7 separate regions of the Homo sapiens genome follow, and regions 1, 2, 3, 5, 6 and 7 are each linked to region 4. The links come from fine-mapping of genetic effects on gene expression. A gene starts in region 4. Each other region holds a variant in brackets. All regions are shown on one strand. Distances are between the middles of the regions.

Region 1 (4,069 bases), 220 kb before region 4:
TTTGAGCTCTGTGCTCCTAGCATTTAAAAACATTAACTCTTTCTTGTAGCAGGGAATTTTCTGGTGCTTTCTCTCATAAAGAGATTTCTTTTTAGACCTATTGCTGTGATGGGAACATTTGTATACCCCCCAGAATTCATATGTTGAAACCCAACCCCCAAAGAGATGGTTTTAAGAGGGAGAGCCTTTGGGAGGTGATTAGATCATGAAAGTGGGGCCCTCATGAATGGAATTCATGCCCTAATAAAAGAAACCTATGGGAATTTTGCCCCTTCCATCATGTGAGGACATAGCAGGAAGGCACCATTCTATAAATCAGGAATAGGACCCTCACCAGATTCCGAATCTGCTGGCACTTTGATCTGAGACTTCCCAGCCTCCAGAACTGTGAGCAATAAATGTTGCTTATAAGCCATGCAGTCTATGGTATTTTATTATAGCAGCCCAAATGGACAGAGACTCACATGAAGCCTGCTTCCTAGGGCAATTCTGCCCTCTCCATATTGGTCTCAGATTAAGAAACAGGTTCCTGCATGAAGTTGCTATTGATGCTTCAAAAACCTGGCCCACAGGGTCATAGCAAGGACCCATTCCTCTGACAAGCTTCTTGCCAAGAGCTCTCAACTTTTTAATCTTCCTGACTTTGAGTATCTTGTTATTCAGTGAAGGGAGTGTGCTGCCAAAATTCTAGTTTTCTCAAATCTTGATAAAGGTTAATTTTACATTTATCCAAATTCTTAAGCTGTTCTCTTTCCTTTAATTCCATAGAAAATGCTAGCCGTGATTTCTGGATTAAAGCACCTGCTCTCCTTTTGTCTTTCCTTTTGTTTTTGGACTCAGGTATTTTAAACTCATTCCTTTCCCCACTTAGTGAGAGACATGAAGTCAAAACATCTGGCAACATCATTAATTTTTTTTTTAACATATCTTGTTCAATTTGGGACCATTACATATGTGTTCCAAGCAGGTAGCCAGAGAAGGGCACGAGGTCATGCCTCCCAGTGGAGTCAGCCCAGGTAAAGAGTTGTTCTGGTTGCCCTGGCCAGTGAATTCCAGCACAATCTCAATGGTCACCCTTAGCTGCAAAGGAGGATGAGAAATGTGTCTTTAAGTTGGGCATATTCTTTCTGCTAAATCCATTGGGGCTGGGCTTGCTATGGATGGAGAACTAAATGTAGACATCAGACCAACAGGGAGGTAAAGATTAGCAGTAGGACCAGTGCTGCTGTATTGGAGAATGAGCTTAAATTATGAACAGGTTCATCTACAATGACATCTCCTATTACTTTGATTGCTGAGATCTTCTTTCATGGAAAAGAAAAATATGAGCTGCTGAGACCAGAAATAGAGAAAAGGGGAGGTACCTAGACCACCATGTGCTTATACACTCTCAGGCCAGCAATTCAATTCACTCCCTTGAGGGAGCATGGAGGGATGTAGTGAGGTAGAAGAATCACCTTCTAGTAGTTTCAAGAAGATAAACGTTTTTGTTTTATGTGCCTAGGTAGTAGGAATGTTGAGAAGGAGAGAATGATGCTTCCTCTAATACTTATGTATGTATGTGTGTGAGGGTATATATTTGTGTGTGTGTGTGAGTGTATGTGTGTATATATAAAAATATCTGATTGTTATATATTATTACATATTGTGACAACTGTATTATATTAGTTGCTTTATATGTTTACTCAACTCCTGCTACTAATGACCTTGCAATGTGGTGATCTGCTATGGGAGCTGAGAAAAGGGAAAATTCATGTGTGTTTTGCAGTCCTGAAGCCCTTTTAAAGGAGATGGGCATGAACTGCTTATAGATCTTAAAGAATGGGTAGACTTGTTTCAGGTAAAGAGGAAGGGTGACTCAGGGTAAAGAAACAGCAAGGACCACAGCCACTAGGCCTTCAGCTGTTTCAGAAGCTCACTGCATGATTCATCATTAGATCCCTCTGCATTGCTTCTCAAGAAACAAACAAACAAGCAAATGCAGATGACTGGGCAGTAGCTCCTGTGATTACACATCCCGCTACTCCCCGCACTAGAGGAGTGTTTGAGGCAGGCGCTGTTGGTGTGTAGCAGGCTCTGGCCTCTCCTTACGTCCTTGTCGTCTTTGACTCCTGATGTAATGCTGATTTGGAAACTCTTAGCAATTAGCCCAGCTCCCTACCCAAGGCTCAGCCCGGGAGTTGGAGTTGACAGCTAATTGTTGCCACTGATTGCTTTGCTGACAGTGCTCTGTGGCTATTTTGGTTTTTCTTGAGAGTTCCTTAATTAGAGAAAATGACATCGTGTGCTGTCCAATCAGTTGCTTGTTGGATATTATTACATTTGTAGGAGAATCAGGTGACATTCGGGCTTGTTCCTGCCAAGCTGGTATGAGGTTGATGACCTGCAGCACAGTTTGCTTGGCAGAGCAGTTGTCCCCACA[AC/C]AGCTGAGACCAGTTTGCCACTGACTTAAGGGAAGAGCATTCTGCATTCCCAGTGTGGACTCAAAGTACCCAGGACTCCTTCGGGGCAATGTCCCATTGAAACTTTACACCTCACAGTGGCCATTGCCTCATTAGAATGTTGACTTTCTTCTCCCTGAAATGAGATATTTCAGGATTCCTTTGATATTTGCCTTTCTGACGAACATGGAAAGACCCTTTTGTTTTTCCATGGGAGAGATACAAATAGGACCTGAAGATGAATTTCCATTTGGTGAAACTTTAAATGTGGTTTCTCATATAGTATAGTAAGATCTCACTACACTGCTTTAACTAACAGGAAGGATGATCTTAAATTAGAAAATATTTTGAGTTATAAGATAAATTTGAAGAGTTTTACAACTCTGAAATCCACAGAATAATTTTTACATGCTGATTTTTAGGTAGCAGTCCCTTCTGAGGCTATAATTTGAATATAATTCAATTCAATAATTTGAATTATTTTGGAATAGCACATACCTACTTTATGTGTTTATTTACACATAAACTAGGTAGGAAAGTTTTATACATAAGATTGTCAAATGAGCACTGACCTTTCTAGTTCCTTATTTCTGACATTAATTCATTGCATCAAAGATTTATTGAGCCTTCAGGGGTACCCTTGGTCTTAACAAAGAAGTATGGGACACAGTTTCTGTCCTCAAGAAACTTACAGCCTAGCTGGGAAGTTAACATTCTCAAGTGAGACCTCGTGACTTCCTCGAAGGGATCTTTGAGGAAGATGTAGCTTTTCTCCTGGAGTTATCAGTGTTGGAACAGAGAGTAAAGAATGCAGGATTGATCCAGGGTTGAAAAGATAAGAGGAGAAGAATATTGAGGATCTATGGAGAGTTCATAACGTTCTCAGATTGGGCACAGAAGGAAGGAGACCAAGGTGTATTTGTGTCTGTGTTGGGGGAGTAGGGGTTGACCATAAAGTTGGAGAAAGTGGTTAATGGATATGGTGGATGGGTAGAAGTCAAAGAGGACTCCGTGAGGTCAAGAAAGAAATGAAGAGTAGGTAAGTTTCAAGAGAGATCAAACAATGTCTCTTGTCCATGTTTCCTGTGGGTCTGTCTTTGCCTCCTCAACTACATGATTAAAAAGGAACCAGACGTGACATTTCTCTTGTGTATCCTTCCCTGAAGAAATTCACAGCTTATTCATGGGATATATGAAGATCATTTGGTTGAAATTATCAACTTTCTTGTACATATATAGAAATGATTGAGTTGCTCATTGGTTAGTGTGTATGGTGACCTCCAAAGTGTTTCCTGATGTAATCTTATGTGGTATAAACACCCACAAACACAATGAAGAAGAGGAAGTCCCCATCACCTGATAATTGTTCATTACTTTTAAGTAAAGGAAAATTGTTATCTCTAGGGAAACGTCAGAGAGACCCACAGGCTGGAGGTGATTTTGCCTTACCAGTAAAGCCAAAGTTGCTGTTCTTTCCCACAGGCCGACAGCTCTCCTTTTACTCTTCCTGGTTTTTCAGGCTAAGTGTATTTGAAGGCCCAAATGAACAGCTTAAACTTCTTTCTGATCCTGTTACTGTTTTCCTGCTCAACACTCAACTTATTCTCATGTTTATATTTAACCAATGT
Region 2 (4,069 bases), 340 kb before region 4:
AATTATTGTTAACTATAGTCACCCTACTGTGCTATCGAACACTAGAACTTATTACTTCTATCTAAGTGTGTTTTTGTACCTATTAACCAGCCTCCTTTCATACTCCTCCCCTTCCCAGCTCTGGTAACCACCATCTACTCTCCACTTCTATGAGTTTGATTGCTTTAGATTCCACATATAAGTGAGAACATGTGGTATTTGTCTTTCTGTGTCTGGCTTAGTTCACCTAGCATAATGTTCTCCAATTCCACCTACATTGCTACAAATGACAATATTTCATTCTTTTTTTTGGCTGAATAATATTTTATTGTGTATATATACCACATTTTCTTTATTCATTGATCCATTGACAGACACTTGGGTCGATTCCATACCTTGGCTATTGTGAAATGGTGTTGCAGTAAATATAGGAGTGTAAGTATCTCTTTGATTTACTGATTTCCTTTTTTTTGGATATGTTCCCAGCAGCTGGATCATATAGTAGTTCTATTTTTCATTTTTTGAGGAACCTCCATGCAGTTTTCCATAGTGGTTGTACTAATTTATATTTCCACCAGCAGTGTATTAGCATTCCCCTTTTCTCCCCATCCTTGCCAGCATCTGTTATTTTCTGTCTTTTTGATATATATAGTTTAGCTATATATATCATAGTTATACACTTACCATGGGATCTAGCAATGCCAGTCCTATATATTTGACCAAATGGAATAACAGCTTGTATTCACAGAAAAAACTGTAGGCAATTATTTTAGTAGCTTTATTAATAATTGCCCCAAACTGGAAATAACCTAACTTTCCTTCAACTGGTGAATGAATAACAACCTATGGTACATTCATACCATAAAAAGGAATAAATCATTGATGTACTTAACAACACAAATGAATAACACATGCTTCATGCTAAGTGAAGCCAGACTTGAAAGGCTACATACTATATGATTCATTGATCTGACGTTCTTGAAAAGAAAGAACCACGGAGGCAAAGAACACATCAGTGATTGCCAGGGGCTAGGGTTAGGGCAAAGGCTTCACTACAATGGGCAGTAACATTTTTGGAGGGGTGACAGTGCTCTGAATTCTGATAGAAATGATGGCTACTCAACCGTGCATTTATTAAAACAAGCAGAACTGCTTATTAAGAAAGTGAATTTTATTGTTTGTCAATTAAAAAAAATACATTTCAAAGGAGCCTTCAATGACTTTGCATTGTTCTTAGAATAAATTCCAACTGAGAGTAAATTTTATGTTCTTGATCCCAGGTTGCGAAACAGTCCATGGTCTGGCCCTGGCACTCTGTGACCTTGTTTTTTACTCTCCCTTCTGGCCACTGTATTAAGCTCATTTTATGCATCCTCTAAGATAGATGATAATGCACCAATTTGCTAGAGCAAACCCAGCAGTGGTCTGTACTATCACTGTGTTCAGGGGGCCGGGTTGCTGCTACTTCTGCTACTACTTCGGATTGAGGTGCTCACTGTGGCTGCTGCTCCCAGTCCCTCAGGGCGCTCTCAGGTACAGCCAGCCCAGCAGTGCCTCACCTCCTGTCATATGCCTTGCCTTCCACCTTGGGACTTCCCTGATGTTGTCCAGGCAGCTACTTTGTGGCCACTCAAATGCAACCTAGGAGGGCTAAGTTAACTAATGGGAGACTAAATTGACTAACGGGAGAAGGGAGCCTGCTAGTAAGTTTTCTTTCTTCCAACCACACCAGTAGTCTTCCTCCACTGCCGACAGATGTTTGGAACTTCAGAAGCATTACATTGTTTCTCTGAAGACCATAGATCAGTGCCTTTCTCTTGGATCCCTCCTAAACTCTCAGTAATGCCCCCATACTGCCTCCTGACCAACCCTTGGTGCTCCTGCAGACTCGAGAGGCAATGCCCAGCCA[C/T]GGAATGCACTTCCTTGTAGTTGCTCTCCCTCTTCTCCTGACTCACTTCCCTTTTCTCTCAGTCCTACTCCCCTGTGATTTCACTTCCTTACGCACTGTTCATGCCTAAACTTTTGCTCAGGCTCTGCTTGCGGGGAGTTCAGCCAAAGGCACCCCCACCAAGCTCTAGCACATCTGATTTCCTGGATTCCAGAATAAGCTGTGTATTTCCCCCCAACCTACCCCCAAGTTAGAGCCTTTGCACTGTGTTTCCCCTGCCTGGCTCCTTCCTCAGCTGTTCCATCAATCATTCTATGTGAATTACTGACATAGGCACTCATCTAATATATGTCTTATGTGCTCTATTTATTTTTCTCTCATTAAACTTTAAGGCCCACAAGAGCATGAACCTGTCTGTCTTGTTTAGTGCTATATCCTGAGAGCCTGGAGCAGCTCTAAGCACACAGGAGGCCCTTAGAATGAATACTTGCCATTGTTGGACTGGCTAGTCTAAAATCTATACATTCAGTTGCTTGCTTGACACAAACTTGCCAGTCAGTGCCCAAAGTTGACCAAATGAGGTGGTGAGAGAACTGTCCCAGCAAATGAGACCTCTTGAGGTGGGAGGCTCTGAATGTAGACTTACTGCCGGTTGTCTCAGTGTTCCCAGTTTTCAATACCACACTGTTGAAAGAGCGTTTAAAAAAGCAGGGCCCGGCCAGGAGGGGTGGCTCACTCCTGTAATCCCAGCACTTTGGGAGGCCAAGGCGGGTGGATCACCTGAGGTCAGGAATTCAAGACCAGCCTGGCCAACATGGTGAAACCCTGTCTCTACTAAAAATACAAAAATTAGCTGGGCATGGTGGCGGGCACCTGTAATCCCAGCTACTCAGGAAGCTGAGGCAGGAGAATCACTTGAACCTGGGAGGCGGAGGTTGCAGTGATCCGAGATCATGCCATTGCACTCCAGCCTGGGCAACAAGAGTGAAACTCCATCTTAAAAAAAAAAAAGCAGGGCCCAACATTCAGACATAAATCTTTATGTTCTTGAATTAGGCAAAGCCTTTTAGGTATGACACTAAAAGTACAAGCATCAAAAGAAAAGACAGATAATTTGTGTTTCATCAAAATGGAAAACTTTTATGCGTCAAAGGACAGCACCAAGAAAATAAAAAGGCAAGCCACAGAAATGGAGGAAATACTGACAAATCATAGATCTGATAAGGGACTTATATCCAGAGTATATAAAAAAATTCTCACACCTGGATAATAAAATGATAAATAACCAAATTTAAAATGGGCAAAGGATCTGAATAGACATTTCTCTGAAGAAGTTATGGCCAATACACACATGAAGATGACCAACACCATGAGCCATTAGGAAAATGGAAATCAAATGTTATAAGATACCACTCTATGAGAACACATGGAACACACGGACACAGGGAGGGAACAACACACACCAGGGCCTGTCGGTTGTGGGGGTTGGGGAGCAAGGGGATGGAGAGCATTAGGACAAATACCTAATGCATGTGGGGCTTAAAACCTAGATGATGGGTTGATGGGTGCAGCAAACCACCATGGCACATGTATACCTATGTAACAAACCTGCACATTCTGCACATGTATCCCAGAACTTAAAGAAAAATTTAAAAAAAGAGATACCATTGTACCTCCACTAGGATGGTATGATTTTTTCAGTGGCAAATAACAAGTGTTGGCGAGGATATGGAAGAAATCTGGAACCTTCATATAGTGCTGGTGGGAATGTAGAATGGTGCAGCTGGTTTGGGAAAAGGTATGGCAATTTCTCAAAATGTTCAACGTGGAGTTACCATGTGATCTGGCAATTTATATATATACCCAAGAAAAATGAAAATGTACATCCACACAAAAACTCGAACAGAAATGTTCATAGTAGCATTATCCACAATAGTAAAAAAGTGAAACAACCTAAATGTCTGTCAACTGATAAATGGATAATCAAAATGTGATAGAGCTATACAATGACATCGTTTGTTCATAAAGAGGAACAAAGTACTGATGCATGCTACAACATGAGACAGCCTTGATAACATTAAGCTGAGTGAAAGAAGCCAGTCACAAAGTCCTCAAATTGTATGATTCCATTTATATAAAATGTCCAGAATTGGCAAATCTACATAGAGAGAAAATAGATAAGTGGTCACTGGAAGTTGGGGG
Region 3 (4,069 bases), 180 kb before region 4:
CAGCCTAGTTTCTGTTAAACCACATGTTAGGCTTTGAGCCCTGAAACTTAACAACTGTGTAGAGTAATATACTGCTAGAAAATAGTTAGCCTGTACAACCAAAACAATTTTTTGGAGTAGATAGAGCTTTTTGGGTTGGGGCCACAAAAATTCTACAAAAAATTCAGACTCTTTTGATGGTAGAAATCTGCCTTCCAGGAGGGGGCAGGCAGTACCATTGATGGAAAATTTGCAAGGAAATATTTTGTTATTATAGCACTATTACAATGCAATAATACACAATGCAATTAAAAGATCATTATGGGTGAAAAGAGGTTGGAAGAAAAAGTAGAAACCAGCAGAAGCAATGTAAATACATGAACAAAATCTCCATATTTCCTTATTAAAAAGTAGAAGGCATTAAAGAGGTTATTTGCTACATTCTAAGAATCTGGAGAGTAGAAACTGAAATAAGTAGGGACTTGGGCTAAGAAATGATCTGTGATAGCTAAGTTACTACAGAGATAAATCAGTGATTGGAAAGTTACAGGTAAGTTACTTAATGTTCATGGAGCGGCTTTTCCTCATCTTTCTTCTCCTTCTCTTCATTATTATTATTTGTAGTATTACTCTGAGAGCACTTTGAGGGTTGTACCTAAATGGCTAAGCTAAATGATGTATGCTCTATTATCTGTAAACACATGTGTGTGCACACACACACACACTTAGATTTATTTCTACTTTCTACATTTTTCAGGCCTGAAATCAATCTAAGAGCTTGGGCCTGTCTGGCCTGCAGAAGGCTGAAAGTTGTAAAGTATTAGGTCAAATCATATGAAATTGTTTTTGTAAGTCAAAAACAGCCAAACATTAGTTATTTCATATGATTCAATATGGGAAATTCTAGATGTATCACAAAATGTAATGAAATGTCATCCATTATCTGGTAGTAGTTACCAAGACGAAGTTTCATGCTGGAAGAAATTAAAAAGCCCTTCTGAGGTGTGTCTTTTTTTGCCAGGCAGAAGCCACCCTGGGCTCTCATAGCCATTGGCCCCGTCTGAGAATCAGATGACCTGGGTTTTACTTATGTCTTCATTAAAAGATATGATAATTAACATAATACTCTCTCCCAAACTATGTGTTTTTTAGAGTTTCTTCTAGTCAAATGAAATAAATGTTGAAGGGCTTTGAAAAGCTAAAAATTATGTTGAAGTAACAGTATCATCATTACGAAGTGTGGGGTAATAGACTGAGGGCTGTTCAGAAACAGGAGAATGGAATCTTGAATAATAGAAACCCACTCAGATTTCTTGGTCCATTCTGAGTAGTGAATTCACCAGCTAATACAGGCAGGAGATTTCTCCCTTTAATGTGAGACTGGGCCTTCAGAGCTTGGCTTAGGTAAAAATGGAGACATCATTTGGATGGTACCGTATTTTTTTGAATTAAAAATAACTGTAGCTTTGTGCTGAGAACTGCAAGGAACAAATGGTTCTGTATGTCACCAGATTTAATGGAGACAGGTGGTGTGCTCGGCTCAGCCCTGGGGGCTTTCCTCACTTGCAGAGACTGCTTGTGTTGCCAAATTCCAAGATGGTTTAAGGCTGAACCAATGAAAGCTCCAACCTGCTTCTCCTCCTGTGAATACAGTAGAATCCAATCACAATTCATTCAGGACTGTCTCAAGCAACTGGGGTCCTCAGAGATGCTTGGATTGCATTTTGCTAGCAACTATTTTTCACTAGGCAATGGGGCTTCAGGCAGGCTCTTTCAGGAACACATTCACCAATTTGCTCGGTATGCATTGTGGGGCTTTGCTGGGATTTTACTTGGAGGGGAAAAATTTATGATAGAATTTGAAGAACACAATGTGAAGAAGGCATATGCTGTTTGGACCAGCATTTTTTTTTTACAGGAGAGTGATGTGGAGGGTTTTGGGAAGAGGGTGGCTAGATGGCAGGCACAGGAAGTAGGGAAAGAAACTACAAGCCCTTTCCTTGTGCCAGGTACTGGGCCATAACAGTGCAGGCATTACAGCAAGCATTTTTCACAGCGTCCTGAGTCAGGAAGCATTGTGACCCATCTTAGGGATAAAAAGACTCAGGTGTGACAGCAGAGCACTCTAGGCAGTACCTTGGTGTCAAACACTGACCTCAAAGAGATGAGTTTATGAGTTTTTGTTTACCACGGCTTAGTCCTAGATGATTAAACTCCAGCCTGGAAAATCTATTTGTCACAAAAATTATCTATTGATCTGCTTGTTTGATCTGGAAAAGTTGCTTTAAGGTACAAGGGGCTATATGAAATGGAAGTTAAATCTATTTTTTTTTTTCTTTTAAGAAAAACTGCCCTTTAAAGTTGGCCATTTATTTCCAG[T/C]TTTTGTGATTTCTTCACCTTGGAGCAAAACTTCTTTATTCTGGGAAGACCCACTTGAGTAGCCTCTTTTAGCTAAGTAGATATAAAGCCAATACCTACCGACTCCAGAGTTTGGGGCTTAGAGAAACCTGGAGGTCTGTAGATGGGTGACATTGGTCATAGGCTCTCCAAAACTTATTATTATACAAAGCTGAAAGTGATGGGCAGATTTGCTTAACACCTCTTAAGGGGCAACCAATCATATTCTGTTTCTCTTTGAGGCTCTGACTTGTTCTCATGGCTAGTGATCTGGGTGTCACACTACACTGGGGTTGTCAGAGGGGAGGTTGCTGATGTTGAAACTCCTCTGGCTAACGTGCCTTGGCAGAGCATCTGGCATGAAATGACTGAGGGTGAGTGCATGTGTGTGTGTGTGTGTGTGTGTGTGTCAATTTTAAGAGCTGTGTCAACAAGCTGCTCTGATGCTGGGAACGTAGGCCTACTCTGGGGTAGAGAGTCCAAGAGAGTGAGGCCGGGAGAGAAGAATCCTCACCCTCTGCTGCCTTGCTGGTGGCAGTGTGGGGCCTTGGTTCCCAGAACTCTTGCTGGCATTGATAACCCATTAGGCCTTGGGTTCTGAGACGCCTGCTAGTTGGCAGGCCCTGGCACTGGAAGTCTGTGTTCTGCTTTTAGCAGCAAAACTGTAGTTGTCTCAGTGGCAGAGTATGGGACACTTAACCAATTGATTCGACTTTCTACCTTCTCCTCTGCAAAGAGACAGTAGCCACATCTGACTACTTGGATTGAATATTGGGCCCCTAGGATTCCTGTCCCTTCCGAACAAGGGTTTCTCAGGAAGTAAGGCATCTTTACCAAAAGAGGAATTGATCTTGGATTCATATTGCTTTTACATCAAAATGTGGTGAAGATGAACTTGTGTTCCCTAATAAAAGTCCTTGGATTTAAAACATTCCTTTGAATTATTTGATGCTGTTTGCTTTCCTCATCTTAAGAGAAATGGAGTCCAGCACACTTCCTTGGCAACTTCCGTTGTGGTTTACAACACTGTTCATGAATCAACTGCTAAAATTTTCAGGCTTTAAGGGCATAGTAAGCACGATGTTATCACCAACAGATAGGTAAAAAATGAAAATAATTTGAATTTAGTTTGTTCCAAAAATTTTTGGCAGCTGTTTTGAAAGCTCTAGTTCTTTCCCTTCATCAAGCATTCCAACTGCTTTTTATCATAGACATGTTATGTACTGCTGAACACACACACGTATATATTCTAAAATTAGCATCATGAATATATATTATTTTATATCCTAATTTGTTCCCCATAATACATTATTTCATTATTATTTTTCAAAAACATGACTTTTAATGGGTGCATTCTCTTGTATAAATGTGCCATGGTTTAATTATGCAATGTTTTTGACACAATGGTTATTTCCATCTTCATCATTAAAAATAATGCTGTGATGAACATCCTTGCACCTGAATCTCTGTGATCTTCTCTGATTATTCTTTTAAGGTAGACTCCTGAATATGAAAGTTTTAGATTGGAGAGCAAGTTTAAGCTTCTTCATACCTATGTCAAAAAGGTCTAGATAAGAATGCTAAGTTTACCACATTCTTTTTTTTTAATTTTATTATTATTATACTTTAAGTTTTAGGGTACATGTGCACAATGTGCAGGTTTGTTACATATGTATACATGTGCCATGTTGGT
Region 4 (4,069 bases):
CCCAAAGTGCTGGTATTACAGGCGTGAGCCACCATGCCCAGCCAGTTCACTGAATATTTTAATAGTTCACTGAATATTTTAATACTGCCCAAGGCAGTATAAAGTATACTTAGTCTTAAAAATGCTAAACCAGTCAAAGTAAAAGTGTTGGTTTTTTGCTAATTTTCAAATTAATCCATTTAAAGTCCTGAATTTTAGGCATTTTTTTTTTTTTTTAGAACTGAGAACTTCTTATTTCAGAAGACATCACCTATTAGCAGAATGTGGCACTGCAGTTTTTCTCTCTTAAATGCTAAAGCTGCATAAAGAGGAGGAAGAATTAATTAGGCAGCTATGGATTAGAGCCAGAGAGATGGTAAATTAAGCAGCTCAGAGAACGTGGGTCCAGGGAAAGCTAGAAGGGTATGTTTCTCTGCCTCTTCCGGTTCCCTCATTTGTATGATGTGCATTTCTGAACATAAAAGCAGAACAATAATTGGAACAAATTGTCAGTTTATGAATTGTGGCTGTTGGTGAAATCTGCCCCTAGTGAGGCTTTAGGTAGACATTGGATTCCATTGTCCTTGTTCAAACAGGTAAATTCCCAGCTGTCATTAATCTGAAATTAAAGGAGGAAAGTTCCTTATAGTTTGATTTCGGTTTTGCAGTGCCACAGCTAATCGCATCAGGAAAATAACTTTTTAAATAAAAATCTATCTTTTCTCCCAATTGGGGCTGGGACAGAAATAAAGGAAGATGAAAAGGAGGATGGAGTAGGACGATTCTATGACCAAGTGATTTGAACATTAGTCTTATTATTAAAGAAGCAATTTCTGATTCTACTAAAGAAATTTCATTCTTTTACAGTGACACAAATGTAATCTGCCTGGCTGACTTAGGTTCCATTTATATTTTGTAGCACCCCAGAGCTACTCTTTTTTATTTATTTATTTATTTTAAGAAACAGAATAGAAGTCGTTATAAGCCTAGCATATAAAGGTCCTTAGGGTTTTGAGGGCAGTCTCTTCTCCCCTGCCTTTTAACTCCTTGTCCTTTGTTTGGGCATACATTTTCTGAATGTCTTTTTCAGAGTACCTTCTTGTGAGTTTCATTGATTTTGTTTAATCGGCTTCCCATTAATTAAGAAAGAGAATTAACTGGGAAATAGGCACGTGTGCAGAGTTAAAAGTAAGCTAGGGTCGTCGTAAAGGAAATAAAGCTGATGTTAGAAAACATGTGAGATAACCCTTTCATTCTATGGCTCTGGGCTTTCATTACACTTTGTGTTTGTGGAACACTGGCCCTGTTTACTCAATGTTGAGTCTCAGCAAAGGGGTGTGGATGAGAGGACTCAAGAGGGGAGCATTTGGCACCCGTATGGCCCCAAAGCACAGTTTTCAGCTTACTCACATGGTTATTTTAAAGTAACACTGTTTTGAAACTCCTTCGGTCCTCATTTTTACCTAGACATTTTACAGTACAGGAATCCTGAATTTATGTTATCTGATGTCTACATCCTACTTGGTGTCAGGATCATTAGACTGTCTTACCTGTCTCTGAGTCATAAGCCACTGTCATGAACCCAAGCCACTGTTTTTTATTTTTCTTTCCATCACAAGCATGGTCTCAGTATATCCATGTAGACTCTGATATAGTTTTTAAAATACATTTTCTTCCAACCCCTCCCCCTGAGCTTCTGTTTTTATATATTTGCTTGCAAATAAGTTTAATTGGCTAAGAAAACTACTCCAGAATTTTTCAGTTTCTTTCCTTTTGTTATAGAGAAAGAGAGAGAGAGAGACATGCTTCATGCTGATGGTAGTGAAACAAATGAGAACTTCAGGGTGGCATATATTTTCCTGCAAGTAACTGTAGAGAAAAGACACCAAAGCCTTAAAGAGGAAAGTTGTAGGCATTCTGGAGTCACAACTTCGGGGGTTGAGGTTGTCAAGGAGCTGTCCGTGATGGTTCTATGGTGTGTGCGTACACACATACTCTCTCTCTCACACACACACACCACAGTGACAGATGACCTATTGAAATAATTTCAGAGCCGGTCTGTGGTTGCTACGACAACCAATGATCTCTTGGCTTTCATCTGGCCATGTGACAGGGACTTTGACGTCAGCTAGAGGCAGAGTCTGTGGCTGAGTCCACACAGTCAAAGGCTTGTGAGAATCTGGTGGATGCTGGACCTTGCTGCTGCTGCTACTGCTGTTTCCAGGGGCTGCAGAGCATGGACTGTTAAATCTTGCACTTCTTCTGAGTGAGGTAATTAGTTTGCTTTATATACAATAGTTAGATGTTTTTATAGCTCATTGTGGTTTTCCCCTCTCTCTTACCTCCTACAAGTTTGTATTCATGAGCAATTATTGTTGTACCAAGGGGAAAATGTGAAGCAGCTTCTAGTTGTGAATTTCAGGCAGGTTCTCTGGAATTTGGTTAAATTTGGATTAATGTTTTGTGAAGTAGGTTAAAATATAATCGTCTTGCTTGCTCAACACTTGCTAACATAACATTATTTAGACATACGGATTTTGCAGCTTGAGCCAAATATTCTCTCTTGAATTCCAGGAATCCTCCCTTCAGTATTGTTTTGGGTTTAAAAACTCCAGCATAGCCTTGCAATGTGTTTCTAACTTTTCTTTTTACAATTGCTACTCAATTCTGAATCAGCCTAAAATAGTTTGGAATTTGGTTTCTATCTTGTTTGCAGCATTCATATTTAGCAACAATAGGAACCACGGGAAATAACATTATAACTGAAACAAAAGTTGGGATTTTGCTTGTAAGTAAAACCTTTGGTATTCTGAAAGTACCAGGAAAAATTGTCAACAGTTTCCTGTTTAGAGAGAAATAATCGGGAATATGCCAAGGAAGTTGGGGTGGAACCTTTTACATGTGTGCATGCAATTGCTTTTTGGTTGTTAGAGCAAAGTGCATATTTCCAGTATCCTCCCCTGAAAATTCAGCTGTGAAGAGAATGGCATGAGGTGGTCTTTACTAAGGAGTCATGTAAGCTGTTGTTATTTTTAAAAATCGTCATAATTACCTAAAGAAAAAAACAATAGCCCTAAAATGAAAAGTATCATTGACACAAGTTCTACTTTAACTCAAACACAGATAGAAGTAGTCACTCACAATTTGCTCTGGATCTTAAATGAATAATTTGATAACTGTGATTAATAAGAATTTTTATCTCTTTATTCCTATAATACTATTTACTACAAATTGTTTTCTTTGTATTGTAGTTCCTTTCCTTCCCAAGTTTAGTAATTTCAGATTTTCTTTCATGACATACAGGTTGAATTGTTTTGGAGCTTCTAATTTAAAGAATACCTGTAGTACTGAAGTTAGCCAAAGTCTAGATTTATAACCAGGTGTCTAAATCTTACAAGTTTAACAGAAAAAGGGGCAAATTTTAGAGCACTACATGTAATACAGCTAGTATTTTAATTAGTAGAAGAAACTGGTTTAACTGTATATATGAATACCATATATTCACAGTGTGTGAATTATATCGTAATTTAGTGCAAGAATATATTGTTTTAATTTTTATGTTCTTTATTAGTTTCAGAATTCTAATAGCATTTATTTTACTCTTGGAGGTGAAAAATTTTGAACAGTATTTAGCTACAGTAATAAGTGAATAACTGTGGGTATATCAATAATTTCTCAGTAGCTTTCAATGAGTGAATATTCATTTAACTTGCTGGCATTTGACATGTCTGTTTTTGGTCAGGGTCTCCGTGGAGGATTTTCCAAAAGTCTAATGTGCTTTCATTCCAGGCACATCTACTGAGACATAATCTCATCACTTAATTGATCTCAAAATTATAATAACCCAGAGGCCATATTCTTAACACCCCTAGAAAAATGATAATTTATATGTAACATTTCAGTTGAGCACAGATAAGACCAGTAGCACCGTCATTTAACAGCACTATCTTTGATGAGGTACACTTTGACATTTACTTCTTTTACTCAAAATGTGGAATTATCATTATAGTTTTTCCAGGTAGCAGAGATTTTCTTGGTGCTGTCTCTATGACATTTTAAATTAAAGTCTTATAATAATTGTATTCAATGC
Region 5 (4,069 bases), 270 kb before region 4:
AGACCAGGAAAGAGAGAAGGGCAGGAAAAACAGGGCTTGGGAGAATACGACAGGGGAAGTCTGTTTGCTAGATGTGATTCAGTTTAGTTCTTTATTCTCTACCTGCTCCCACTTTTGTGGGGTGCCTGCTTCCTGCTGCAGGATAGTGAGGTGTGTTACTGCAATAATATCTGGAATGGACTCTGGGGCTACAAATTCCAGAGGGTATAAATGATACTGCTGAGGCTGCCCCACAGGTGTATGTTTAACTTTCTGAATCTGGCTTACATTCTCCCATTCTTCAAAAATTACGTTTTCTGTGGTAGCAAGAGGCAGTTATGATGATTCAGAAAGATAATGCCTACTGGTGCTTTACTAGATTCTCTTCCTGGAAAGTCCTTGCTAAAATTATGTCAAGGTCATATAAGGACAGTTTTGTGTGTGTGTGTGTGTGTGTGTGTTTGGGACAAGACTGATTCTGTATCACTTTAAAAGTATACAGTTGAAGGATGAGTAAACAACAACAGCAAGGTTAAGTGTTTGAGTAACATTGTTTCAGTGATAACTGATCTGAGTTTGATATCTTGACACAGGCTGCCACTTTGGATTCAGTTGTTGTTTTAAAATGGCTTCACATGTTTCCCTGTCACCTCAGGTGCTTCAGAGGCCAGCGTGCTAGAAGTGAGCACACATAGAAATAAGACACAGACTCAGGGTTTGCACATATAACAGGTGGACCCATTTCTCTCCATGGGTTAGGAATGGGCAATGGTTTGGGGGACTCTATTGGAGGTGGTTTGATGGGTCAAGGAGATAATTTTATCATTTCCATTTTTAGAATCTGAAAGATTTCTTTCAGTCTTCTGGAATCTTCCTTTAAAATGCAAACAATTCTGAACCAGGCCATTTTCACCCAATATCTCTGTTAGAATTAGTAGAAATGAGCTTGGAGGTAGGTGTCCAGAGGCAAATGGAGATGGGTAGAGCTTAGAGGAAGCTGGAAGGTGACCAGAGGTATGGAAGGATGACATCAAGGACAACGTCAGGCCAACTGCCTCCTTCATGAGTGGGGCTGTGCACACTCTCTTTCTGAAATGTTGTGCTTTAGTTGAAGAGTTTTCCCCAATATTTTGATTTAACATAAATTAGTGCATTTTGGTGCAAAGCCCATGCTGCTTTCCCAGAGTACAAAAAAGAATTAGGTGGAAGCTTCCTATTCAGACGTGCCCCAAGTCACGTTAACCTGTGGGCACACACCTGCCTTGCTGCGGGTTTTCCCTCTCTTCTCTAAGGGCAGGTCTTGAAAGGAAATGGATTTCACAAGTTGTATTCTTTTAAAGCTACATCACAATGGTCACTAAATAGCTATTTGTGTCATGAATGGCTGCCTCCCAGGCTATGCCTCAATCATCTTGTTCTTCGTGTATTGTCTGGGCCCAGCACCGTGCCACTCACACAGTGAGTGCCGACTGTGAGCAATGCAATAAGATTCTAGAATTACTGAACAAATGCTTGAATAACTGCTAGATGGTATTAGAGATACAAACCTTCTCTTACCTTGGGTAAAAAGCGTATGCTGATCCTGGTAGCAAATGAATAAGATCCTAGGAAATGAGAACCAGAACATAAAATATATTTCAGGAAGACTGAGTGAGGAGGGAGTGGCTCTCTTGGGGACAAAAATTATTTCTAGTTCAAAGTTATTGTGACAATTGTGGAGCACATGACCTGTGACATTTCCCTCCAGGCTTTGCCTGCCTGCCTGCCTTTTCATCAGTTCGGTATTGACTGGCCTCACCTTCCGGGGAAGTGGGGAATGAAGAAATGGCTCATTTTACTACTTGTTAGCGCTGTGAGTTGGGTCCAGGAGGGTGAAACTAATAGCTGAAAAAATCCTAAGGGTTTTCTAAAGACTTACTTATTGTCTTCTCATGAATAATTGAGAGCCATATATAGTTATAAAATCATATACAGTTATAAAATCATATATAGTTATAAAAATTGTCAAGAAACCCACAACCCACTCTTGTCTCCTTGGAAATGTGGTATGGAAATGTGCAAGAATTTTATTTATTTATTACTTTATTTTAATGTTTATTCTGGAGACAGGGTCTCGCTATGTTGCCCAGGCTGGTCTTGAACTCCTGGCCTCAAGCGATCCTCCCAGCCTCCCAAAGTGCTGGGATTACAGGTACACACCACCTTGCCCAGAGTAAAATTTTACTTTTGAGGCAGCATAGCTGTGATATTTGTAATATTAATGCCTCCAATAGCAAATTCCTGTAGCCCTGGGGAGTTTAAAATTGGGATGACGTTGGATGGAGGATGCAGGTGGTAGAGAACAAAGAAAGCTGAATTCTAAAAATGTGCAGCCTCAATGCCCTGACCTTTGTGTCTCTCGCTGCAATGTATTAAAGGCCTCTGTTTCATTTGTAAGCATTCATTCATGGAGGAATAACCTCCCAAAGGT[T/G]TGTAGCAAGCATTCCTGGGGATCTATTGGTAGCTTGGACAGAAGGCTGAGTGCCTGGAGTTGTTCACATCCCCGCTTTGCCCGCTGTCACTCTGCCCTGAGGTAACAGGCAAGCGGCTTCCTTGGGTGGTGGCGCCTGCGTATGGAGCAGTGGAAATATATGGGCAGATATGAAAAAAAAAAGAGCCTTCACTGATTCACATCAGGACCAAGTAATGTGACTTTTCAGATTAGCAGATCGAAATCTGTTGCAGCCGCTCAGCATTTCTATTTCAAGCCTGGAGAACATCTCTCCAACTGTTTCTTTCTTCTTTCTCCACTCCTGCTTCAGCCCTCAAAGCCCCTACTGCTTTTTAGCTTTTTGGTTCCTCCTGTGCTGTAGAGTCCATTGCCTGAGGTTTCTTGATTTTTTTTTTTTTTTTTTTTTTTGCCAAAGTGAGAAGAATTGTCAAATCTCGTACTCTATTGTAGGCTGGACTCCACTGAAGACATGTCAGAGAAGCAGGACTGGGGTTCCCATAAATCCTGGTTGAATGAGCAAGGGCATGAGTGGATGGGGAGACACCTAGGGAAGAGCAAAGTGCCAAAGAATAAAGCACAGCATCTAGGGTGCTTCCCGCTGATAACACTCAACTTTGCACACTGGCTCAAACATGGTGTGAAGAAAGTTTTCATTCCTGTGTGGTATGTGATTTTTGTACATTTCATATCATTAGAACACCAGGTTCATGGAGCAGCTGCTACCTGTAGACACTGCACTTGACCCTGAGCTTTCAGAGGTTAATAAGCTTTAGCTGCCATCCCCAAGGGGCTCTCTGTCGTGGAATGCTGTTTGTTTTGGACCTGCATCACTTGTAGAAGTAGAAGGGGCTCAACAAGTGTCTGAGAAAGGGAGTGAATGATGTTCATACAAAGAACGAAAGAACTGAAAGTGATTCAGCAGGTTTTATTTGTATTTGGTGTACTTGGGCCCAGTGGTGTTGTGGAGGTGTGGGGAGCCATCCATTCATTCTCCCTCAGCCTGCCTTGCCCTGGTGGCACCTGTTTCAGGGACATGGGGCTGGGTTAAAGGAGCATGTACCTGACTCGTACAAGCATCCAGTGGCCCTTCCCCTGAGCCCTGGCAGTGTTGGGGAGTGGGTGTTAGTACTCTCTCCTCTTGATGTAGATATTCCCAGAGCTCTGGGGCTGGAGGATAGATGAGGAAGGGTTAACTCCAGGGTGGTGACAGCTGAATATACAGCATAAACAGCATTTGGGGATGAGATCACTTCTGTTTTGGGAACCTGAAGGCAAACACAGTTGCATTTGTTCGTGTAATCATTGCCTTGTTTGAGGTTGTTTATGTTTAGAAATTCATGTTGGAACATTTATCAGTTGGGGCACAGAAACCAACTCTGGCTACTTAAGCCAAAAATGAATCCACTGGTAGGCCATGGAGCAGTTCCCAGGATTGAGGGAAAAGCATGAATTGTATATGGACCTGGTCTCAAAAGGAAGTGGGGCAATTCTGGGGTTCTAAATACTGGGAAATTAGGGATAGTCTTTTCGGGACTCACCTCAGGATGAAGCAGGAGCTGTTTTCCATCCTGAAGTTTTCCTGGAAGAGCAAGTTGGCTG
Region 6 (4,069 bases), 290 kb before region 4:
TGAGAGGCAAGAGGTAGGGACATCTCACAAAGGGACTTGTAATATGGTTAGACATTTGGACTTTTTTTCTAAGCGAAATAAAAAGCCATTGATTGGAAGGGTCTTAAGTTGAGGAGTTACATTTGATCATGATTCACATTTTTAAAAGATCACTGTGGTGGCTGTGTGAAAAATAGAATGTAGAGGGGCAAGAGTAGGAACAAAGAGACCAGGTAGCTGACTATTACAGTAATCCCCTTGAGAGGTGATGGCAGCTGGGATTAGGGTGGTGGCAGTGGAGCTGGCGAGAAGGGGCTGTGTAGGGATATTGCAGGATTTGTAGGTGAGTTGGGCATGGTGTGATAAAAAGAAGAGATAAATTGAGGTTGATGACTAAGTTTTGCCAGAGCAACTGGTTGCATGGGGTGGCCATTTGTAGACATGAGGGAAGACAGGGAAAGGGTCAGGATGGGGGTGAGGGAGGAGAGAAAATAAATTCATGTTTTGGACACGTTAAGTTTTGAGGTGCCTACCTGGTCTCCAAATGAATCTGTCAAGCAGCTACTTGGATATTTGAATCTGGAGCAGGGGAGAGGTCAGGACTGGAGATTAGCTAAATTTTGCCAGAGGTGTAGCTAGAATCACCCAGAGAGAGAATGTGTATAGAGCAGAGGAGGCCTGGAGCTAATCTCTGGGGTACCCCGATATCTAGAGGTGGAGATGAGGAGGAGAGCCACCAAAGAGAACCGAGGAGCAGCAGCCAGTCAGGTAAGAGGTCAAATTCCAGAGACAGTGAATTCAACTGATATCTGGCCCACCAAGGTGTAGGGCCCCTTCCAGTCTGCTGTCTGTCCTTGGCCCAATCAGTAGTCGCTAAAGGGAATGGGGGTATGAGGCCTGCTGTCTACTAAGTTTGTGGGCAGTCCAGATTTCATGAGAAGGGGAAGGGATAGGACGGGCAGGCATTCTAACACTTGCCTAAAGTATAATTTAAATTTTGCTGACAGACTGTTAAGGGATATTATTTCTCTCTCTCTATCATATCTTTCTTTTAATTTATCTCATTTTTACAGACTTTTTATTAGTTCCCTCTTAACTTTTACTTTCGAAACAATTTCAGAGGCATTTGGTACCACCAGTATCAGGATTTCTTCCTACTTTTCTGTCTTCTTTCCTTTCTTGGTCCAGCTTTTAAAGGTTTCTTTCCATGCTCCCATCCATGGACACAATGCGGCCTCCGTATTTTGAACCCTGTGGAGGAACCATAGGATGGGGTGATCATCACAGTCAGTTCTTCTCCAGGCAGTGGGGAAATGATCCTTTCAATCTGGTATGAGTTTTGTTGGAATGAACCTTTCACCCAAGTAGTGCTAAGGCATCCCAGGAGGCTCATACTAGCAATTCCACCCCACCCCCTCCACCAGCCTCTGCAAAGGAGAGACAGGGAAAGAATAGAGAACATTACTTAATTTGGGGAGTTATGTGACTAGCTGTTGATGAAGAGAGACTACATGATTTCAGGAAGGGCCTGTAAGGGAAGGGGCGTGAATGGGGAAGATGATATAGCATTGCTTCATTCTGGCCTCAAGCAGAATTCTCAATCCTAGGCCACAGGTCACTGTGCAGGTGTGAGTCACGGGTGGGCCACAGGGCCAGCAGGGTCACAAGTGTAGGCAATTGT[A/G]TAAGTCTACCATCACCATTAGAAAAACAACTTCAAGTGTGTGTCATTTCAGAAGGAAGGCGTGCTATTTGCTTTAGGTAATTATACTTACCTGTAATTATTTATGTAATTATAGCTACCTGTAATTATTTAGGTAATTATAGTTACCTGTTCACCAGCATTTGGGTACATGGTTAAAGATGCAGCCAGAGAGGATTTATTCAATCCAGAAGCCTCTTAGGTGAATACAAGTATTATTTTGTGTTGGTTCCCTAGATCCTCTTTGCTGTGAGAGGATGCATTCTCTCTGGAGAGTCATTTTGAGCTTCTATTTCTCACATATAAACTGTGGAAAATAGAGTTGACTTTTTCACTCCCATGATTGAGTTTAATGGCCTTGAGATGTGGCAAATCTTATGTAGCTGCTAAAATCTTATTCCATTTCTATGTTCCCAACCTCTTGGCTTTATTTTTAGGGAGGCTTTCTGTTATAACCGGTACAGGCAGGTGGTTCAGCATCTGCCCAGGGAGAATGAGACTGATTTTTCTTCTCCGCAAGCCTGTGTGTGTCACTCATTAGCTTGACTTGGTTACTAACAATAAGTCACCTGTGTTCTCTTAGCAGACTATTTTACAAACATTTTAAAAACATTTCAAAAGTTGAGAAAAGAAAGAGGGAAAATCTTCATAACACATTTTCTTAATAAACACGTTTCATGTTTTATAATAAACATGTTATTTTTTTATTCCTTTTTGGTCTTTATACTATTTATATGTATTTTTAGAATTTTAATGATAGCATACACAAGTTTTATATTCCTTTATAATATTTCATAATAGTTTTATTTTTTACATACTATTTCATAGATTAGAATGACCATAATTTATTTGATATTCTCTTTGGGGACATTTATTTTGTTTCCAGTTTTTTGTTTGTTTTTTTTTTTGAGACAGAATCTCGCTCTGTCACCCAGGCTGGAGTGCCACGGTGGAATCTCGGCTTACTGCAACCTCTGCCTCCCTGGTTCAAGCAATTCTCTGCCTCAGCCTCCTGGGTAGCTGGGATTACAGGTGCTCACCCCCGTGCTTGGCTAATTTTTTTGTATATTTTAGAGACAAAGTTTCACCATCTTGGCCAGGCTGGTCTTGAACTCCTGACCTTGTAATCCATCTGCCTTGGCCTCCCAAAATGCTGGGATTACAGGCATGAGCTACCGCACCTAGCCAACGTGGAAACATTTTCATGAGTCTTGATTCATCTTGCCAATGTCTCTTAAGTTTATTATTAAGATTCTCCTATTGATTTAAATAAGAAGGAACCTCAGAAGGGAGAACTATAAAGGAGAAAAAGAAAACCCTAAGAGATGCAATAAATAATTATCCAGATTATTCTAATTTATCAGACCTACATAATTCTATAGTATTATACAAGCACACATTGTATAATATTATAGTATTAGACAATCCTCTGCCTTGGTACCACTATTGTCCCATCAAGTCCTGAGAAAATGAGAGAAGATTTCAATGAGAGCTGAACCTCCTGTTACATTACTATGATCCTATAGTATTATGTAAATGTAATCCTATAGTTTTATAGTTATGTTTCCATAAATATTCATGGACACATAGGGAAAAATTTCCTTTTGGTAACATCTATGAGGTTTAGACTTTTCTTGGTGTGGCACTTGCTGTGAGTTGTCTACTTGTTATATGTTCTCTTTCTTTCTTACTAAGAGAAATCTGAGTTTTTTCAGAGCAATAGGCCCCGTTAAATATTCAGTTTCTCAGTGTGTCTTACAGCTAACTGGCCAGGGGACACAGTTCTGACCAATATAAAGTAAGCAGAAGTCTGTGATGTTGTCTTTTCCCCTTCCTCCTTCCTTTTGCCTGGGATGCAGCTGTGATGCATGGAGGTGTAGCAGCCACGTTATCACCTTATGGAAAAGAAGCCATACATGAGAAGAAATGATGGAGCAGTACAACAAAGTTCCCAGCTGAATGGAATCATAATGGCCCCACCCAAAATTGATTAAAAAGTCACAGCTGAATGGAATCATAATTGATATACCCTAAATTGATTAAAAAACCACTGTTCTAGTTTATTGCATATATTTTACAAGCATCTTCAAGTTCTTTATAGAAGAAAGTAGATGTAAACCTGTATACACATCAGTAATAATATTGTGTGGAAGTAAATATGCCCACAGGAAGAGGTGGAGGATTTCCTGTGGAACCGACGTGAGAGCTGCTGATCAAGTGCAGTCAGGGTTGATGGCCATAAATCTAATTTCTGAGACTCAAAAACCAGTCAAAAAGTATACAGGTCATCAGTCTGGGTTTGGGGCACAAAAATTAAGATCTTGAAGAGAATATGGCCAACAGGAAGCTAGGTCAGTCTCCTAGGGGTTCAGAATCAGCTGTCACACCAAT
Region 7 (4,069 bases), 320 kb before region 4:
GACTCTGTTACGGTGCCCCTAGATTTGATTTACTGTCTGGATTCTAGGTTCCTTGACACACAGTAGAGGTTTTTGTTTTTGTTTGTTTTTGTTTTTGTTTTTGTTTATTATACTTTAAGTTCTAGGGTACATGTGCACAACGTGCAGGTTTGTTACATATGTATACATGTGCCATGTTGCTGTGCTGCACCCATTAACTCATCATTTACATTAGGTATATCTCCTAATGCTATCCCTCCCGCCTCCCCCCACCCTACGACAGGCCCCGGTGTGTGATGTTCCCCTTCTGACACAGTAGAGGTTTTCTAAATGCTTTTGATTTGATCATTTGCAACTTTATTCTAACTTTAAACAACAAAATAAACAAACACTTAAAATCTACCGTCCTTTACTTCTGAAATAAAGGGGTGTGAAAGAGGCTGTCAGAAGCCAGTTTGATCCCTGTCTCAGCTAAACGTTTTCTGGGCTTTGCTTTGCTGGATGGCATTGAAGGAAATGAATGGGAAAAAGAGCTGCCACTGGTCCTGTTCAGGCTTCTCACCTGGGGCTTTCCCAGATGCTTTTAGAAATATAATTTCTCAGAGGAAGGCTAAGGATGCTGGAGTCTTTCAGGAAAGGGAAGCAGAAGCAGCAGAGACTCAAGTTTCTAAGCCCATGCTTCAGGAAGCATCCACTACAAATATTGTTTGTGAATGCCATTGACCCATCCGCACGTCTTTTATTTATGTATTTTCAACAGTGAGCCCCAAAGTAGGGCCTGTGTACATCGGGCACATAAGGCAAGGTAAAGAGTAGCTTTGGCAATGGCCTGGAGAATTCGATGACTGTAGTCCATCAAATGAGGTGTATCAGAAAAGTCCACTCCAGGGCATCAATTATTCTGTTTTATTGTCTGCATTGATCGCATTAACTGGGGAAGAGCCAAAATCCATTCAGTCTGTGCTATGGAGTAGCAGGTGTAATTAAGGTCAGTTTCTCTCTAGGGGGCAGCTAATTTTGGTTTCTCAGCTGCTTTACAGTTTGACTTTAAAAGAGAGGAAGGAAAGAAAAAAAGGTAAAGTGCCCCTTCATGTTACCATCTTACCTATCCTACTGTATCATTGTTACTCTGGTTAATATTAACTTTGGATCCTTTTGCTTTAACAGTGTATCGGAATACTGTGATACTTACAGAATTTAGTCTCACTACCTGAAGAAAAGGTTTGCCTTGCAGGGGACCAACTACACAGTTTGTGGGGCTCACAACAAAATGAAAGTGTGGGAACTTTGTTTAAAAAAATTAAGAATTTGAAGATGGTGCTAGTGGAGGATTAATGCCAGCATGGGGCCCTGCTGAGTATGGGGCCTGTGTGATGGCACAGGTCACATGCTCATGAAACTGGCCCTGGCTTTGTGCATATGCTGAGGATGGTGTCCTTTTACCTACCTGGCACCTTAACTCCCAAAGAGTGACCAGGCCAGTTTCCTCTGCCTTGGTTGGAGCACAGCTCTTCTGTAGGGCAAGGGCAGTAAGAGGCCTGGATATCTCCTGTTGGCCCTTCCACATCCCTGGCTCCCTTCTCCACCTGGCTCTGTGCCCCAAGAGGTGATCTTTACCACTGGCGTCAATGGCCATCTTTTCTTCTGACTTCTGGTATAATTTGGCCAGAAATCAGCAGGAGACGGGAGGGTGGGAGGAGAGTGAGGTAGGGTATTTATTCCCCTGTCCCTCCACTGGGTTGCAAGCTGCAGCTTGGTGTGTGTGTGCTAAAGACCACAGCGCCTGCAGCTATCCTCTCCATATCGCCACCCTCTTTGGGTTCCTTCAGCCACTTCCTCCCCTCATGCCTTCAGGCCTAGGGTGGTCATGGCTTCCTGCTATTACTAGCCTTAGAGTCCTGCATCATCCTTCATTGCTTTCCTGAACCCCTGTATGACTTTCTTCTCAATAGCCTCTTCAGTAGGACTCCTCTGTAGGATTCAAGAGCAGCCTCTTTAGTTTTCTGGTTGGGCTTTAACTGATTTGGTAACCCTTGGACAGAGTTTGGCCACAGCTTGCTCTGCTGCAGGGCAGAAAGAGAGAAGCTGATGGCTGTGATAACACGTGACTCTGCTGGGCCAGCTCCTGGTAGGGATGGGTGATCAGAAGGCAGTACCTCCACATCTACAGTGGTGGAGAACGTATGTTTGAGAGCTAGACATTTGAATTCTCTGGCCTGACTTTGGGGAAGTCATCTCATCCATAAAATGAGCGAATGACAGCCCTTCACTTACAGGGCTGTTTTGAGCATGAAGCGAGATCACGTGGGCATCATGCTTGTCATAGTGCCTGGCACACAGGAAGTGCT[C/T]GAGAAGCATTGCTGCTTTTAGCATTAGTTCTACGGAGTGACCCCCTTGAGGGGATACACTCGCTACTCTTCTCTGATCTGAACTAAGGCACTGACAGCCTAGACTACACCAATGATTATCAAGTTTTCACTGATTCACGGTTGTTTGGGGTGCTATTTCTGTCTTTTCAAGTAGATTGTTCTGAAATTGTTCTTATCTTACATACCTTTTAAAAAACTAATATAAGTGCCCAACCCAGTAGGTAGCACATCATAACTGGCCAAGAAATGTTTCTTGGCTAAATATAAGACGACTACATAATTTATTGTTCACATTGGGACATTTTTGAGAGTGAAAGGGGAGGACTTTCCAGTAATTACAGCAAAACAGCAGGCACAAATGGGGACTGTCCTAGGCAATCCAGGTAAAGAAACATAGTTATTCTACTTAAGTGGGACTTAAGGCAGTTTTCAAAATACATTTTTAAAATTTGCCGGCCTACCATATTTTGTATTCGTCTGCCTTTGGTTTATGAAATAAAAACATGAGATTTGAAAAACATAGGCAAAAATATGTTTAACACTTCTAATAGATTCTTGGCCTGAATTTGAGGCAATGGGCCAGGGCCTCTTATCAGATAGAGACCTACTTTTACACTTTGTTACCCTGCTTTACACTAGGTACCTATTTATAAACTTTCTTCTGTGCCTGCTTTTAAAAAAGATAATCTCCTAATTATTGTCTTTCTTGCTATAGTGATCATTTATGCTTAAAGATGGCAAAAATAGATTTATATACATGTGTTTTTTGGAACATCTTTGTCTTTGTATTTCTGGTTGCCTGGGTGACATTTCCAAGAGAATATGTGCTAATCTGCTATTACTGAAACAGAGATAAGGTGGAAACTATTTTTAGGTCTGTCTATACCTTTCCTTTTCTCTCCTAGACCACTTAATTGGTTTATTTTTTTCTGTTTCCATTGTTTGAAGGGCATTCATAGCTTCTGTCTTGGTCCATTTTGCGTTGCTATAATGGAATAAGTGAGACTGGGTAATTTATAAAGAAAAAAGGTTTATTTGGCTTATAATTCTGATGTCTGTAAAAATTCAAGATTGGGCATCTGGTGAGAGCCTCAGGCTGCTTCCATTCATGATGGAAAGTGAAGAGGAGCTGGCACGTGCAGAGATCACATGGCCAGAGAGGAAGCAAGGGGAGGGGGAGGTGCCAGGCTCTTAATAATCAGCTCTCCACTGAACTAATAGAGTGAGAACTCACTTACCTCCCTCCTCCACCCAGGGAGGGCATTAATCTATTCATGAGGCACCCACCCCCACGACCCAAGCACCTTCCATTAAGTCCCACCTCCAACAATGGGGATCAGATTTCAACATAAGATTTGGTGGAGACAAACAACCTTATTTAAACTATAGCAGCTTCCTTCCTGTAGTTCTAATTTGGGGACTGGATAACTTTTTTGAAAACTGATGTAGTCATTCAGTATCTTCTTCATTCACAATAGCTAAATGTGTATTGATAGCCAATTTGTTTGGTTAGTTGATAACAATTTTTTTTTTTATCACAGTTTGTCTAAAACAAGCTTAGGCAAGGGATATTTTTGGTATAAAAAAAGAATGTGGAGGCAATCTGTTGTTCTCTGCTGGAAAAAGCACATCCCTTCTGGAGCTGGATTAATCCGGTTTTGGTCTTAGTATTGCCACTTATTAGCTGTGAGGCCCCTGGAGCTTGTATCTTCAGGTGACAA

Direction of the effects. Positions count from the first base shown, and alleles are read on the strand shown. Sizes are in standard deviations (SD) of each study's normalised expression. Not every link is listed here.
For the expression in skeletal muscle of the gene that starts at base 2,143 in region 4, allele AC in region 1 goes with a higher level than allele C (small effect, 0.23 SD a copy in GTEx).

Evidence for each region. PIP is the estimated chance that this variant, and not a neighbour inherited with it, causes the effect. A credible set is the group of variants that fine-mapping cannot tell apart.
Region 1: its variant is the best candidate, but not a certain one, in a credible set for the expression of NCALD in skeletal muscle (GTEx, PIP 0.79).
Region 2: its variant is the best candidate, but not a certain one, in a credible set for the expression of NCALD in whole blood (INTERVAL, PIP 0.87).
Region 3: its variant is the best candidate, but not a certain one, in a credible set for the expression of NCALD in lymphoblastoid cells (GEUVADIS, PIP 0.75).
Region 5: its variant is the best candidate, but not a certain one, in a credible set for the expression of NCALD in testis (GTEx, PIP 0.56).
Region 6: its variant is the best candidate, but not a certain one, in a credible set for the expression of NCALD in whole blood (INTERVAL, PIP 0.72).
Region 7: its variant is the best candidate, but not a certain one, in a credible set for the expression of NCALD in lymphoblastoid cells (TwinsUK, PIP 0.50).

What each region holds. Positions count from the first base shown.
Region 1 is chr8:102,010,515-102,014,583 of GRCh38, reverse strand. It overlaps a transcript of NCALD not described here. Among named protein-coding and RNA genes, the nearest start is that of MIR5680, 110 kb to the left of the region's middle. The variant AC/C (reference allele first, on the strand shown) is at 2,423.
Region 2 is chr8:102,126,489-102,130,557 of GRCh38, reverse strand. No RefSeq gene overlaps it. Among named protein-coding and RNA genes, the nearest start is that of MIR5680, 3.1 kb to the right of the region's middle. The variant C/T (reference allele first, on the strand shown) is at 1,889.
Region 3 is chr8:101,966,558-101,970,626 of GRCh38, reverse strand. It overlaps a transcript of NCALD not described here. Among named protein-coding and RNA genes, the nearest start is that of MIR5680, 160 kb to the left of the region's middle. The variant T/C (reference allele first, on the strand shown) is at 2,359.
Region 4 is chr8:101,789,043-101,793,111 of GRCh38, reverse strand. It overlaps NCALD (neurocalcin delta), which reads left to right and starts at 2,143. Exons shown (of 4, transcript NM_032041.3): 1 at 2,143-2,250.
Region 5 is chr8:102,063,820-102,067,888 of GRCh38, reverse strand. LOC124901997 (a long non-coding RNA gene) reads right to left here. Exons shown (of 3, transcript XR_007061038.1): 1 at 4,009-4,069; 2 at 1,537-1,583. It also overlaps a transcript of NCALD not described here. Among named protein-coding and RNA genes, the nearest start is that of MIR5680, 60 kb to the left of the region's middle. RefSeq lists an enhancer at 1,221-1,799. The variant T/G (reference allele first, on the strand shown) is at 2,450.
Region 6 is chr8:102,074,469-102,078,537 of GRCh38, reverse strand. It overlaps LOC124901997 (a long non-coding RNA gene), which reads right to left. Exons shown (of 3, transcript XR_007061038.1): 3 at 1,148-1,230. It also overlaps a transcript of NCALD not described here. Among named protein-coding and RNA genes, the nearest start is that of MIR5680, 49 kb to the left of the region's middle. The variant A/G (reference allele first, on the strand shown) is at 1,661.
Region 7 is chr8:102,112,295-102,116,363 of GRCh38, reverse strand. It overlaps a transcript of NCALD not described here. Among named protein-coding and RNA genes, the nearest start is that of MIR5680, 11 kb to the left of the region's middle. RefSeq lists an enhancer at 3,378-3,879. The variant C/T (reference allele first, on the strand shown) is at 2,328.